Homo sapiens: one gene and its partner. The protein of the gene in region 2 purifies or fractionates together with the protein of the main gene of each other region. This does not show direct contact. Each region holds a gene or a part of one and is shown on either strand. Other genes may lie near its edges.

Region 1 (2,824 bases), on a different chromosome or scaffold from region 2:
ACAGGTGAATAGACCTTGGTTCTACCCCCAAAAAGCTCAGCATCCAAAAAAAGCTGTCAAAATTAACCACAAAATGTAAAACAATTTCACAATTGCATGTAACATACTTTTTTAAAAACTCAGCCACCTTTGTAGAATAAATAAAAATACAATGTCAATAAAGCAAGATAACTACAAGGGGGCATCTGGGTTATTTTTTTTCTTTCCTGTTTCAAGTTGTTAAGTGAAATGACACTGCCTTAACGGTTGTTTGTCTTCACCAAACTAGAAAACACAGAGTCCTCTGGCCTAAGTACAAAACCTTTGATGGTCCAGTAAAGAGCCCTCCATTGGTGCTCTTCAATTTGCAAATTAGGCCTTAAATTCTACTGAAGATCATCATCTGATTAAAAATAAAAAAATCAAGCACCATTTCCTTTGAGAAGTAGCTGAATGTTCATGGTATGGCCAACTTGTGTGATACAACATCAATTAAAACAGAGTCTGTCTAGCCTTAAGAATTTTACTATCTGGTAGTGGAGATGACAGAGGAACAGTAGTTAACAACCTTAGTGTTTCTAGGTGCTTACATAATTCCATCTCAAGACAGGTTAAATGTGACAAGAGGGAAAAAAGCAAATAGTTACAAGTGTCCACAGAAAGGAGGAAGTGATCATAACCAGTACTTAGGAAACAGGGATTACAGAGACAAAGGCAGAGTGCTAGGCAAGTACAAGATTCAGTCACGGACCAACAGGGAGTGGAGCACATTGCACCAGGCGCAAAGAGTATTCACCTAGCAAATAATTACAGGTAAGCTTTTAAAGATAAGAAGTGAGCATGAATAACTGTGAATGCCAGGCGAAAAAATGTGATCAAGTAAGATGACTTTGCAGCAACACAACTGCTCACTCCCTCCCCTTCTTGAAATACTCTCAAGTTTCCAGGTATCAGAGTGTCCTGGTATTCCTCATACCTCTCTAGCACCTTCTTCTTAGTCTTCTTCGCCCGCTCGAAATCAGTGGTACTCGGTACTCAAGACGTGGTTCCTGAACCGGCAGCATCTGTATCACTGAAAGAGTGGGCCTCACTCAGACATAATCAAAAGTTGGGGACCAGGCTCAGCACTTCTGTTTTACCAAATCCTCTGAATGTTTACAATGAACACTAATGTCTGAGACCAATGCACTATAGGAGTCCTTCAATGAGCACCTTCTCATTCTACACTCTCCCTACATCCATCCTCTCCCAGGGCTTTAAATAACAGCCAGGGCTCACTAATCAATCAGAAGTACCATCTCTAAGCCCAAACACCTTTGCTGAGTTCCAGACGACATACCCAGCTTCCCATTTGATATTTCCTCTCAGATATCTCATCCAAACACATCTCTAAACATGTCTGAACTACTGGCTGTCCTCCAAACACCTCAAAAAAAAAAAAAAAAATCTGTTCCTTCCTTATGTTCCCAAACGGTACTTTCACCTGAGAGATACATAAGCAAGTAATTCCTAACACTTCCTATGACCACCACAAGGTCTTCCCATTTAAGCATTATCATCTTCATCCCCACTGTCATCATTTTAACCTTATAATTTGTATACCTCTCTATACAGCAATCAGCATGATCTTGTAAAAATACAAATCAGAGCATGTCACTGCCCCAATTCAAACCCTTCAATAGCTTCCTGTTGCATTTCAGATAAAACCTAAACTCCTCAGCATGGTATACTAAGCCCCGGACCCTGGTCACCTTGCCAACATCATCTTGGATCTCTCTTACATGTGATTCATTCATTGTAGTCCACAGCTCTGAGCATATTTCAGTTTCTGAAACTTCCTTCCCTCACACAGAGACTTCAGTCTTCATGACATACTTCAAATCACCCCAACCTCACACCTCTGTTTTTACCTAACTTTCTTCATCCTTCAGGTTTCTGCTAAAAGATCAAAAAGGCCTTCCTTGACCCCCCAGTCTAAACTGAATTCTCTCATAAAACCCTGAGCATTGTCTTCACGACACATATAAAAAATTTTAACTATAGTAACTTGGTGATTTTTGTTGGCTTGTTTAGCTTTTACCTTCCACACTAATCTGTAAGTTTCATAGGCCAGAAGAATACCTCCACTATTGTCCTCTACTATGTTAAGTAGCACCTAGCAGTGCTTAGCACACCAAAGGCATTTAATGAAGTTGTGTAGTAGTAACAGTTGTTGATATTTTTATTCGATCCTTCCCTTTTTTCTATCCTCTCTATCTTCTCTTCGGAATGTGAACTTACAAGTTACTGGGCAGCCACAGATGCTTTCTGCAAATGAGATATAATGCTTAAATCTATCATTTCCCTACTAATTTATAGTGCAAAATCAGATGTATAGTACAACCTTCCTGAAAAATTAACAACGAGAACTGGCTAATACTTAGCTTATCTAAGCATTTAACTCTAAGAGAAATACTGAGCTATTTTTAAAGAACCCTGTAGTAAATTCCTGGCCTCCAATTACTAACAATCCAATAACCCCCAACACCCATCTCAGTAAATCTTACCCACATCACCATATTCACACTATCATTCCTACCCAGCCCCCATAACCTCGTGATTACATTATCTCAACAAGTTATCTCTGCTCTCCCAGTCTCAACACCCCATTTTAGGTCCATTTTGTACCAAGGACATTTAGGGAAAACAATGTCCCCTACTCAAAAACCAACTTATTATCAATCAGTATTAAATTCCTCAGACTAGCACCAAAGGCTTGTTATGGTGATGCATGTGGTCAACAAGCCAACCCCAGGTTTTAGTAAAAACTTGGAAGGTTACATTGAATTAATTATATGAGCCTGAC
Region 2 (2,729 bases):
TGCCTCAGTTTCCCCCAGGCTGCAGATCAGGAGAGACAACTAGAGTCTCCTCAAAGGACAGAGGAGGCTGGGCCTGACCAGTGATGCTTCCACTGTGCCTTCTGGCCTGGCTCAGATTCTCAATGTCACCCAAAATTCTACCCCAGAATTCCCAGCCCCATCCTAACCATCTACCCCAGAATTCCCAGCCCCATCCTAACCATCTATCCCAGAATTCCCAGCCCCATCCTAACCATCTATCCCAGAATTCTCAGCCCCATCCTAACCACCTACCCCAGAATTCCCAGCCCCATCCTAACCACCTACCCCAAAATTTTCAGCACCATCCTAACCACCTACCCCAGAATTCTCAGCCCCATCCTAACTATCTATCCCAGAATTCTCAGCCCCATCCTAACCACCTATCCCAGAATTCTCAGCACCATCCTAACCACCTACCCCAGAATTCTCAGCACCATCCTAACCACCTACCCCAGAATTCTCAGCCCCATCCTAACCACCTATCCCTGAATGCTCGGCCCCATCCTAACCACCTACCCCAGAATTCTCAGTCTCATCCTAACCACCTATCCTATCCCAGAATTCTCAGCCCCATCGTAACCACCTACCCCAGAATTCTCGGTCCCATCCTAACCACCTACCCCAGAATTCTCGGTCCCATCCTAACCACCTACCCCAGAATTCTTGGCCCCATCCTAACCACCTACCTCAGAATTCTCAGTCCCATCCTAACCACCTACCCCAGAATTCTCGGTCTCATCCTAACCACCCACCCCAGAATTCCTGGCCCCATCCTAACCACCCACCCCAGAATTCCCAGCCCCATCCTAACCACCTACCCCAGAATTCCCAGCCCCATCCTAACCAGCTATCCCAGAATTCCCAGCCCCATCCTAACCACCTACCCCAGAATTCCCAGCCCCATCCTAACCAGCTATCCCAGAATTCCCAGCCCCATCCTAACCATCTACCCCAGAATTCTCGGCCCCATCCTAACCACCTACCCCAGAATTCTCGGCCCCATCCTAACCATCTATCCCAGAATTATTGGCCCCATCCTAACCATCTATCCCAGAATTCTCAGCCCTATCCTAACCATCCCATCTACCCCAGAATTCTTTTTTTTTTTTTTTTAAGACAAAGTCTCGCTCTGTCGCCCAGGCTGGAGTGCAGTGGCGCGACCTTGGCTCACTGCAAGCTCCGCCTCCCGGGTTCACACCATTATTCTGCCTCAGCCTCGCGAGTAGCTGGGACTACAGGCACCCACCACCACACCCGGCTAATTTTTTGTGTATTTTTAGTAGAGACGGGGTTTCACCATGTTAGCCAGGATGGGTTGTTATTGGTCTCCTGACCTCGTGATCCACCTCCCTTAGCCTCCTAGAGTGCTGGGATTACCAACATGAGCCTCCGCGCCCAGCCATCTATCCCAGAATTCTAACTCCCGACTAATAACACATACTTCTCAGACCTACTCTAATATCCTACACTGGGATTATCTACCCTAGTGTAACATCTCACCCACAATCCTCAGTGCCAGCCTAACAATCCATCTCAGAATTTGTAGACTAGATTCATATCCTCCAGAGTTTTTATAACCTAATGCTACCCAGAATTTTCCAACCCACCCAGCACTCTACCCACGAATTTTCAGAGTCAGCATAACATTCCAGCTTAGATTTCTCCACACCAGTCTAAGAATCCATTCCAGAATTCTCGGTCATCCCAACGTCCCACCCATCATTCTGAGAAAACTACTATCTCACTCAAAATTCTCAGTCATATTAATATCTCTCTCTCTCTCTCTTTCTCTCTCTCTCTCTCTCTCTCTCTCTCTATATATATATATATATATATGTTTTTGTTTTTTTTTTGAGACAGAGTCTCGCTCTGTCGCCCAGGCTGGAGTGCAGTGGCACGATCTCGCCTCACTGCAAGCTCCGCCTCCCGGGTTCACGCCTTTCTCCTGCCTCAGCCTCCTGAGTAGCTGGGACTACAGGCGCCCGCCACCACGCCCAGCTAATTTTTTTGTATTTTCAGTAGAGACGGGGTTTCACTGTGTTAGTCAGGATGGTCTCGATCTCCTGACCTCGTGATCCATCCGTCTTGGCCTCCCAAACTGCTGGGATTACAGGCGTGAGCCACCGCGCCTGGCCTGTTTTTTTTTTCTTTTTTGGAGACAGTCTTGCTCTGTCGCCCAGGCTGGAGTGCAGTGGTACCATCTTGGCTCACTGCAAGCTCCACCTCCTGGGTTCAACTGATTCTCCTGCCTCAGCCTCCAGGGAAGCTAAGACTACAGGTGCCCACCACCACGCCCAGCTAATTTTTTATTTTGAGTAGAGACGGGGTTTCACTTTTTTTTATTTTGAGAGAGCCAGGGTGGTCTCGAACTCTTGACCTCAGGCCATCTACCGGCCTTGGCTTCCCAAAGTGCTAGGATCACAGGCGTGAGCCACTGTGCCCGGCCTTCCTGCGTATTTTCTAAGACTAACTTCCCACCAGCCATCTCAGCACCAGCCTAATAGCCTATCCCAGAATTCTTAGTACCAGCCTAGAATCCATCCCAGAATTCTCAGAATCACTGCAAGTCTTCCAGAATTCTCAAAGCCAGAATAACATTCGATTCCAGAAGTCTCAGTTACCCTAACATTCTATCCCGGAATTCTCAGTGCCACACTAACATCCCAACCAGAATCCTCAGAGCCAGTTTAACACTGGATTTCAGAGCC

Evidence for each region. The genes of interacting proteins can lie anywhere in the genome.
Region 1: the proteins of PRR12 (region 2) and BMP2K purify together in Homo sapiens (affinity purification with mass spectrometry, with the first as the bait; one large-scale study listed by BioGRID). This does not show direct contact.

Annotation. Positions count from the first base shown.
Region 1 is NC_000004.12:78,780,026-78,782,849, reverse strand, and holds part of BMP2K (BMP-2-inducible protein kinase), read right to left. Parts: exon of another isoform or gene 956-2,824; intron 1-955. UniProt on the Homo sapiens protein: May be involved in osteoblast differentiation.
Region 2 is NC_000019.10:49,622,037-49,624,765, reverse strand, and holds part of PRR12 (proline-rich protein 12), read right to left. Parts: intron 1-2,729.